Regions from separate parts of the Homo sapiens genome. Here region 2 is linked to region 1. The links come from fine-mapping of genetic effects on gene expression. A gene starts in region 1. The other region holds a variant in brackets. All regions are shown on one strand. Distances are from middle to middle. Region 1 holds the start of KRT4 (keratin 4). Region 2 has its middle 9.1 kb from the start of KRT76.

The links. PIP is the estimated chance that this variant, and not a neighbour inherited with it, causes the effect.
Region 2: its variant is the best candidate, but not a certain one, in a credible set for the expression of KRT4 in lung (TOPMed, PIP 0.60).

What each region holds. Positions count from the first base shown.
Region 1 is chr12:52,811,042-52,816,416 of GRCh38, reverse strand. KRT4 (keratin 4) reads left to right here and starts at 2,301. Exons shown (of 9, transcript NM_002272.4): 1 at 2,301-2,820; 2 at 4,440-4,654. The coding sequence starts at 2,359. RefSeq lists an enhancer at 2,729-3,230 and a silencer at 3,396-3,596.
Region 2 is chr12:52,783,716-52,789,090 of GRCh38, reverse strand. No RefSeq gene overlaps it. Among named protein-coding and RNA genes, the nearest start is that of KRT76, 9.1 kb to the right of the region's middle. The variant C/T (reference allele first, on the strand shown) is at 2,323.

The DNA of each region.
Region 1 (5,375 bases):
CATAGAGCCTCTAAGTAGACTAGTTGATCAAATGTAGGTAAAGCATCCAGCACAGAGCTTGGCACGAAGTCGGCGCTTGGTGAATCTGGGCAGAAAGGATCAGTGAAAGTCCAACCCCTTCCTTCTAGGAGATGGTTCTGGCTCTAGAATGCTCACCTACTGCAGGTGGACTGACCCATGACGCGGGCATTCTCCTGTGATGGGGCCTGGGGCCTCCAGTCCTCATGGCCACAGCCCCTCCACCCCCTCTCCACTTACTTAGAGGCCATCTTGGCAGAGACAGACCCGAGGTAGGGGAGGGAGGGGTTGGGGGAATGGGGACAAGGGAGGAAGTGGCTGGAGAAGGAGCTGGCTGAACTCCCAGCCAGCCTGGCCTTCCCTGCAGCCCTGCGTCTGGGGTGGGATCTCCTGACCACTCTGTCCTCAGCACTGGCCCCTGCCCTCTCTCTGTGCATGGAGGCAGCCGTTCACTCTCTCCCTGGCCAGCTTTCATTCAGCTAGGGGCAGCTTGGGTCTGTGGGATTATCCAGGTGCTGGTGACTGCTCTTCCTCAGACCTGGGGTCATTTCATCTATGAGGAATTGAGGAAAGGAGGGAGAACAAACACACCAGATTTCTCCCTGTAAATGGCAATGGCAAAGCCTGGGAAAGAAGAGAATGAATGCCTGCTGACCTCCTATATGCCAGGCACCATGGGGACATTGTCTAATTCCTTGTGAGGCAGGTGTCCCATTTGGTAGATGAGAAGATGGATTGGATGGTGTATTAGGCCATTATTACGCTGCTGATAAAGACATACCTGAGTCTGAGCAATTTACAAAAGAAAGAGATTTATTGGACTTAACAGTTCCATGTGGCTGGGGAGGCCTCGCAATCATGGCAGAAAGCAAAAGGCACTTGTTACATGGTGGTGGCAAGAGAGAGAATGAAAGCCAAGCAAAATGGGTTTTTCCTTATTAAACATCAGATCTCGTGAGACTTATTCACTACCACAAGAACAGTATGGGGGAAACCGCCCCCATAATTCAATCATCTCCCACCGGGGCCCTCCCACAATGTGTGGGAAATATGGGAGTACAATTCAAGATGAGATTTGGGTGGGGACACAGAGCCAAACCATATTGGATGGGTTTAGAGTGCTTAGTTGGCCCACCCAAGGTTATACAGCTAGTTAGTGGCAACAGGAGGGATTTGAACACAGATCTGTTACTGTTCAGTTGGGAAGAATTTAAGTTATGGCTTAAAACTAGGATTTTGCATTTAAAAACATTGCTCTGAGAAGGGATCCATAGGTTTCATCATTCTGCCAAAGGGATCCCCAGCAGCAAAAAAGTTATGAACTCCTGCCCTGAATTCTGCACCATTACAGAAAACCAGAACACACCTAGCAAACAACTGGACAGCAAATGGAGCAGCAGAGTGCACACCACCAGACCCCGCTGGAGAACGCCCATCTAGAATTGTGCAAGCACAGATTGAAGGGAGGCCTGCGGGGCAGCATGGGTACCCAGGGCTGAGAAAGACAGTCACGGTTTTCTTTGGGGAGGTGTTTTGTCTTCCCCCATCTCCTTAGTACCTAGCTCCATGCCTGGCAGTTTCTCAGTAGCTGTTGGCCAAGTTGAAGTGAATCTGGATCTAGGTTGGAAGGCTAAGGCTGGAATACAGAATATTTCCCCTTTTTATAGGTACATGGAGCCAAGAACATGTGGAGGAATAAGAATGCTAAGAATGACAAATATACATGTGGCTTTTGACAGTTTACAGAGCACTCCATTAATCACTAGCTCACTCTATCCTGAGAAGTGGCAAGGCAAATATTTGTATTACTTCCAATTTACAGGGAAAGCAACTGGGCCTCAGAGGGTGACTTGCTCCGGTTTGCAGAGCTAGGAGGTGGCAGGCTGTGCGCTCAAACTCAGGCTGTCTAACTCCACATTCTGTGGGGTGAGAGGATGGGTGATGGGGTGTCTTTTCTGGAGGAGGGAGGTGCTGTGAGCCTAGCGAGATGGAGGTACAGTGGGTGTGGGCCTGGAGCGCTGGGCCCAGGCAGGGGCTTCTGATTAGGAAGCCCTGGGGCACCAGTTCAGGTTCTCCCAGAGAGTAGTGTGATGGGATCCAGTAACCTGTGCCCTCCAGATGACTTCTGTAGGTGTGTTTAGTGACATGCTCAACGGGTGCGGGAAGGATGGGCTTGTGCCAAGGGCCAAGCCCAGAGATGTTTCAGATTTTTCCCTTTATGCCCCTGCAACCAAGCCCTGCTGCTCCAGGACATATAAGAGACGAAGGCTGAGGGCTCCAGCACTCACCGGCCTGGGCCCTGTCACTTCTCTGATAGCTCCCAGCTCGCTCTCTGCAGCCATGATTGCCAGACAGCAGTGTGTCCGAGGCGGGCCCCGGGGCTTCAGCTGTGGCTCGGCCATTGTAGGCGGTGGCAAGAGAGGTGCCTTCAGCTCAGTCTCCATGTCTGGAGGTGCTGGCCGATGCTCTTCTGGGGGATTTGGCAGCAGAAGCCTCTACAACCTCAGGGGGAACAAAAGCATCTCCATGAGTGTGGCTGGGTCACGACAAGGTGCCTGCTTTGGGGGTGCTGGAGGCTTTGGCACTGGTGGCTTTGGTGGTGGATTTGGGGGCTCCTTCAGTGGTAAGGGTGGCCCTGGCTTCCCCGTCTGCCCCGCTGGGGGAATTCAGGAGGTCACCATCAACCAGAGCTTGCTCACCCCCCTCCACGTGGAGATTGACCCTGAGATCCAGAAAGTCCGGACGGAAGAGCGCGAACAGATCAAGCTCCTCAACAACAAGTTTGCCTCCTTCATCGACAAGGTGAGCTGTGTCCTCGGCTGGAGAGGGGCAGTTAGAAGAGAGGGGTCCTGAGTCCTGGGGTCTCAGACCTGAGCCTGCCACAGGTGCTGGGGAGACCACTGAACTTCCCTGGGCCCCAATTCTCCAGCTGTTGAAGGGGCATCATGACTTTGAGCCTTCCTTTTTGTCCCGTGGCTGGTGGGAAGGTGGGATGCTCAAGGCAGTTAAGTGTTTGGAATTCCCTAGACAGGCTGTGGGATACTGGACAAATCATTTGGCTTTTCTGGCTCTAGTCATCCCAGCTATAAAGGGGGTTCATTATTTCTCTGCTTTTTCTCAGATTTTGGTTTTGAATATAATGCAGTTAACCCCATTAATCACTTAACAGTGGCCACTTCTGTTCTTAGAACAGAAGACAACTAAGCTGATTTTGCAAATGAAAAAGGGACTGGCTCCAGTGGCAGATTCTAGGTCTCACCAAGGCCTTGGAAATTTACTTTTTTCATTCCTTTGACTGGACAACACTGCTCATGTCTGGGTCTGTTTGAAGAAAGGAGACAGGTCTCTTTTCTTTTTGTAGCCCAACTTCCTTTTTCATGCAACGTCTAGAAGTTCAAGTTCTTTAAGCTCAGTTATGGTCATGCATGATGGATGATAGTGAGCAGTGCAGCCCCAGAGAGCCGAGTCATCCAAAGATTGATGACTGGGTGGATGAGTGCCTCCCTTTGGTCCAGGTTGCCCTGGTTCACCAGGCATCAAAGTCTTGGGCAGCTTCGACATATGGGGCAAGAATGAACACTTTTGGAATAGAATAAGGTGCATATTTGTTCTTCTTGCTAGTTTGAATAAACCCATAGTAACTTAAAGAGGTTTTACTGTGACTATAGGACATGCAGATGTGATAGCAAAAACTCAGGGCTCTTTGATGCATCCTTGTCTCATCTCATCTCATTTTACCTTTTGGGTTCAAAATGTGATCGGTCTGCCTTACCTGCTTTCCTTTCAATTCTGAGGCTCATAACATGGAAATGTCATGCTAAGCTGCTGTCCTGGTTTGTCTGGCTAGATTTTTTCATAGAGAGAGGGAAAGTTCAGGAAAGTCCTTTGCAGAATGGAGTTTAGGTGAGACAATGCGTACAGGGCCCTTGTTTTAAATATCTATACTCAGTTGTTCACAGGTTCACAGGGACACGCCAGATCCATTGATAAGTAAGCTTATTTAAAAAGTCTGTAGTGACTTTGTCTTTCATTTGCCTTGGGTCAGGATCACTTTGAATGCAAGAGCCTCCAGATTGTGATGTCTCTTAATTTTATTTTGTTATTTCATAGAAGTTTAATGTTCTTTGGGGCTTTGGGTGCCTGCGGCTAGGAAGTTGTTCTTGTTGCACTGTTAGGCCCTGCTTCTCTGGCTGTGCTCTATTCTCCACAACCTATGTGACCCCTTGGTGCTATGGGCTCGAGAATGGGGCCATCATGTCAACCCGAGTGAATGGTGCCCTGGAGATGCAACATAGTGGCCCTACTTGGGTGGTTCTTGGGCCGTGTAGTTCCCTGGGATTGACTGGGTTGGTGTTGCCTTGGCTGGCCCTCCTGCCACACTTCAGGCCCTCATCACTTGGCTGGTGCCTTTATCAACACAGGTGCAGTTCTTAGAGCAACAGAATAAGGTCCTGGAGACCAAATGGAACCTGCTCCAGCAGCAGACGACCACCACCTCCAGCAAAAACCTTGAGCCCCTCTTTGAGACCTACCTCAGTGTCCTGAGGAAGCAGCTAGATACCTTGGGCAATGACAAAGGGCGCCTGCAGTCTGAGCTGAAGACCATGCAGGACAGCGTGGAGGACTTCAAGACTAAGTACATGGGGAGGAAGGAGGGGACGCCATCTGACACATGTGCCCAGCCACACCCAGGCTCCCGGGGCTCTCTCCAGTGGCTTAGAATCTCAGGCTCTGAAGGCGTCTAGGAAGGCCCTCTAGTCTGTTTTGCTACATCCACATAGTCACGTTTTCTCAGGGTGAGGTCTGGTAACCACAGATTTTTCCGAAAGGAAATTTAATGATAGATTCAGGGATTTGGGTCTGCCATATACGAACAAGATCAGAACCCAAATAGATGAAAAGCAGTATAGTATGATTAGAAGAATACAGACTGTAGAGACAGATGGAGGTGGTTTGCATACTGAGTCCTCACTTACTAGCTGTGTGACCTTGGGTAAATAGCTGAACCTCTCTGAGCTTCAGTTTTATTCATCTTTGAAATGGGGATAATATTCCTACTTTATGGGTTGTGAGAATTAAATGGAATTAAATGAAATAGAGAAAGCATGTGGCATATTTCAGGACACAGAGTGAACACTGAATACACAGCACCTCTCATTAAACTCACTATGGGATAGGACTGACAAAATAAATACCAACCCTGTCTCTCAATTCACTCACCCACCAAACAAAGGGAAATGGAGTGTGCTGATGACATTGCTGAGAATTTAATCTGCCAAAATGGCCAAAAGGACAGCCCTTTCAGGGACATTAAATCAACTACATCATTGCTGGGTTTTCTATCGAAAACAGTCTCT
Region 2 (5,375 bases), 27 kb after region 1:
CAAGGAAAACCTGTTAGCTTCCTTGAATCCAACATTTCCTGCAGAGGCCCCCATTCCTGCACCTAGCACTGTGCATGCACTTGGGGCCTGAAAATAGGTGCACCAGCCATGAGAGTTCTTGTCATCCTGGCTTCTGCCCTGCACCAAGAAGCTCTGATAATGTGTTAGTTGGCCATGGGAGTGCTGTCCAGAAGGTGACTGCTGGAAAGGACTCAGAAGCAAGGAGTCCAAGGCCTTTGCTTCCAAATGAAAAGATTGAGGCTCAGAGAGGAGGGGTGACTCCTCCAGGGTCTTATAGCATGTGAATGCCTGAGCTAGGAATGAAGCCCTGCATCCCAAGTCCGGAGCTCCCTCCACTTCCCCACACTGTCTTCGAGGATGCCTTCCAGGCATGTCACACTGCCGGGGCACCCGGAGAGAACACACAGGCTGTGGAATAGAAATGTGTAGTCAGGCCAGGCCAGGCCAGGGAAGCAGTATTTCCATCCTTGGACAAGGCTGAATTTATTTTAGAGATGAGGAAAAGCAGTTAGATAAAGAAAACCTGCAACTGGGGGTTGAAGAGATTCAGCCTGGAAATCCAGCTACTGGATCCACTTTTTGAAGGAGGTGGGATTTAGGAGCTGTTGCTTCACATTTGGGTAGGAAGGTACCTTTTCTGGTTGGTATCCTTCTGTGGAAAGGAGTAGGAGACACAGGTGGGGAGGCTCAGTGCCCAACCCAGTTTAGGGGGCTCGCCCTATGGGACTGTGCCAGGCCAGTCATGGGGCAGCTGCTTCACCCTGGGCAAAGTCTTTATCAATGAATTCCTTCTTTCACTCATTCAACCAGTATTCATTAAGTGTTTATTTTCTGTCTGGAACTGGGCTAAATTCTGGAGACGAATTGGTGAGCAAGAAATCAGATGTTGACCCCACCCTCATTTTAGTAAGGGAGTCAACAAAAAAAGTAAGCAAACCAAATGAACACAATAATTTTAAGCTGTGGGAAGTATATAAAGAAATGAAACTAGAGGCTGAGTTGGATGGATGCCAGGACTGGTTAATGGACTGGATGGAGGTGGGGAGGTTAAGGGAAAGGGGAGATTCAACCAGGATGCCCAGTTTCCCAGTATGACCACTTGGGTGGTTGGTGGTGCCATTTACTGAGGTGAGTGGAGGGGTGGGAGGGCGAGATGGGTGTGGAGAGAAACTTCAGCTGTGCTTTAGAAAAGCAGGAGCTGCTCACGAGATAGCCACATGAGACATCCAGGAGAGATGTGAGCCTGTAGATTCAGAAGGGGGCCCCGTCAGGGCTAGACACTCGCATCTGGACATCATCAGCTTAAGGGTGGATTTTAAAGCCATGGAAACTAATGAGTTTTTCCAGAGAGAGGGTGGAGAAGAGGGCCCATGCTGAGAACCAAAGCAGACTTGAATGTAGAGTCAGGGACAGGAGTGCAATCAACCAGATGGTGGAGCCTAGGCCACGTTCTTCAGAGTGCCCCCACCCAAGCAGTCATGGGGGTTCTAAATTGGCTCCAAGGAAAGCCCAGAGCAGGCCTGGCCTTCCTGGGTACTATGCACACTGGTTTCAAGTCTCATGTTCAGACTGTGACCTCTGTCCTTTGCTGTTCCTCCCTGGACCTGTGCTCGCTGGCACTTGTTTCTCCTGTGGGGTTTACAGGAACCCCTGCTACCTAAGTAACAACTAGTGGTGAGGTGGTGGGATGGGGCTCCATGCAGCTTCTTAAAGGACAGCCTGGTACAGGAGGAGTGGGGTGGAGAGGCTATTTCTTGGAGATGTCATTGTTCCAGAGGAATGGCCAGGGCAGGTTACCTTGGTGCCAGGACCTAGGACCCAAGGAGTTAACTCCATGCTTGGCTGGATATTCTCAGCCCAGCACTGACTGTTTCTTTCTTTCTTTATTTTTTGAGATGGAGTCTCCCTATGTCACTCAGGCTGTAGTGCAGTGGCACTATCTTGGCTCACTGCAACTTCTCCCTCCTGGGCTCAAGTGATTCTTGTGCCTCAACCTCCTGAGTAGCTGAGATTATAGGTGCAAGCCACCAAGCCCAGCTAATTTTTGCATTTTTAGTAGAGATTGCCATGCTGGCCAGGGTGGTTTCTAACTCCTGACCTCAGGTGATCCGCCCGCCTCTGCCTCGCAAAGTGCTGGGATTACAGGCATGAGCCACCGCGCCCTGCCAGGCCCTGACTGTTTCTAATCCAGGCTGAAAACCCCTTGCAGGGAACTTCACCTGCTTCTCAGTGCTCCTTCTTTTCCTTTGCCTTAGCATTTGCATAGTTTTTTTGCACAATTCTATGTTGACTTTTCAAGAG[C/T]TCTTAAGTCACTGGGCTTGAGTTTGCTTTCTTGTACTTGACTAGACTTTTCATTCTTCTAGTACATAGTGAGTCCTGTGTTGTCCATGCTTTTCCTGTCCTCTAAGGCATACTTTTGCCCACAAAGAGCTCACAGTGATTGTTGAATAATGCCTACTTGTGAGCCTGGATCCTAAACTGGGATTTGGGGTCTTTGGCCAATGGTCAAGAATTTCTTTGCTCTCTCTTCCACATCTCTCTTTCCTGGGTGTGGAGAGGTATATCCACTTGCAATGAAAAAGAGGAATCAACTTCTTTTTTTTTCTTTCTTTCTTTATTATTATTATACTTTAAGTTTTAGGGTACATGTGCACAATGTGCAGGTTAGTTACATATGTATACATGTGCCATGCTGGTGCGCTGCACCCACTAACACGTCATCTGGCATTAGGTATATCTCCTAATGCTATCCCTCCCTCCTTCCCCTACCCCACAACAGTCCCCAGAGTGTGATGTTCCCCTTCCTGTGTCCATGTGTTCTCATTGTTCAATTCCCACCTATGAGTGAGAATATGCGGTGTTTGGTTTTTTGTTCTTGCTATAGTTTACTGAGAATGATGATTTCCAATTTCATCCATGTCCCTACAAAGGACATGAACTCATCATTTTTTATGGCTGCATAGTATTCCATGGTGTATATGTGCCACATTTTCTTAATCCAGTCTATCATTGTTGGACATAGAGGAACCAACTTCTACCCTACGCCTCTATCTATCTATCTATCTATCTATCTATCTATCTATCTATCTATCTATCATCATCTATCCCCTCCAACCACCCCCACACTGTCTTCCCCAGAAGAAATGCTCAAAAGAGTGTTTTCCTGTTCTAAGAGCTTGCGGACTCACTGGTTCACTTCCCATTAGGAAGACCAAGTTGTGTTTTTAGATTTCAGGTTTTCCTTCTATATCTTTGTGAGAATACAGGCTACATGTCAGAGCAAGTATCAGTGGTAACAGTGTCACACCTATGAAAGGCTCAGTTAAGGAAATCAGAGGGTTGTTTTCCACAAGAATTTGAAAGTAGTTCAGCGCTTGCCTATGGATAATCTAGACTTGACTGCTGATGATCAAGTTTTGCATGTAACGTTTTGTGTAATTTGCAGGTAAATCTCTACATGACTCTTCTCTGTTTTGCCTAGAACTGGGTGGAGTGTTTGTTAGCCAAGCATCAGAGATCTCACTTTCTGGGATTTGGACTGCCTCTTCTCTCTGCCTTCTCAGCACTTCAGCCCATGTGTATTCTCCCTCTATGCAAAGACAAAGACAAAGACAAAAAGTGTGGGAACCTTGAGATAATCTTGGGATGACCGAGAAAAACTCACTTAAGTTCTGAAAATGCTTCTTCACACATTTTATCTGAATCTTCACTACATCCTTCACAAGCCCTTCTGGCATACACATTGTCTAACACACATCTCTGTTGTGCCTAAGATAGAGCTAATCCCCATCAACACTTCCAGTCCAGGCTGAAGGCTGAAGGTGACTTGGCTCTCCTAGGGAACCATTGATGGAGGTGTGCTGGGAGAATCTGATACTTTTGGAATCTGTGGTGATGAGACTGAATGGTGACAGCTCCGTCAACCACTGGAGAAGACGGTGGCAGGAGAAGGTGACTCTAGGTGGAACTAATGCTGTGACTCTCAGTGGGGGCAATTTTGCTCCCCAGGGAACATATAGCAATGTCTAGTGACATTTTTGGTTGTCACAAGTCGGGGAGTGCTACTGGCATCTAGAGAGTAGAAGCCAGGTTGCTACTAAACATCCCACATCACACAAGCCAGCCCCCTTCAACATATAAACAGCCAGCCTCAAATGTCCACAGTGCCACTGCAGAGAAAGCTGTGCCAAACAAGAGGTCGTCTCATTCATTTCTCTCCTTGGGAGAAGATCTTTAGTTACAGTGATATGGGTTATAGTTGAACTGGATAGAGATCCTTGTGGATTTGAGGGAAGTATGTATTTGTAGAAGTTTTTTTTTTTTTTTTTTATGAGATGGAGTCTCGCTCTGCCACCAGGCTGGAGTGCAGTGGCATGATCTCAGCTCACTGCAACCTCCACCTCATGGGTTTAAGTGATTCTCCTGCCTCAGCCTCCCGAGTAGCTGGGACTACAGGTGCATGCCACCATGCCTGGCTAATTTTTTTTTTTTTTGTATTTTAGTAGAGACCGGCTTTCACCATGTTGCCCAGGCTGGTCTCGAACTCCTGAGTCAGGCAATCTGCCCGCTTCGGCCTCCCAAAGTGCTAGGATTACAGGCATGAGCCACCATGCCTGGCCGAAGTTTGTTTATTTTAAAACGGAAATGCCCTTTTATTCTGGATGAAGACATAGGAAAAAAGCCAAGGAAACAGTGTGGCCTTATGTGGAGACTTTCAAGACCTGTGCAAATGGCCTACAAGGTGCCTGCAGTTCTGGTATCAACCTGGCTTTCTCACGCCTCTGTGCCTTTGATGCTCTGTTCTCTGTCAGGAATGCTCATCCCGCCTTCACCCACTTGCCCTGCCTCACTCATCACTGAGGATTACCCAGGCACTGCCTTCTGAAAACCTTCCTAGACCCTCCATGGCACTGAGCATCTGTCTGGACTCCCATGGGACTTTGTCTATCCCTTTTTATCATGTGCCGTATTATATTAAAATGACTAGTTTCAGTGCCTGTTCTCCACATTAAGATAGAAGTTACTCGAAGGGATGGCTCTGCCTGATTCATCTTTGTGCTCCTCAGTGACCAGCAAAATGCCTGGCACATAGCAGGCACTGTGAGCTTCACTAAGCTAATGAGATTTTGAAAAGGGTAGGGTAGACTCTTAAAGATAATTACTGCCCTGACATATTTAACAAAAACAACTGGATTAAACAACTAACTTTTGTGACTAGTGCAAGTCATATTCTGGGCATTTTGCATATGTCATCTCATTTCATCCTTTGCAACTGCCATAAGAGGCAGGCGGCAATTATCCTCATTTTCTAGATGAGGACACTGGCTTGGAGAAGCAGAGTAACATGACTGATG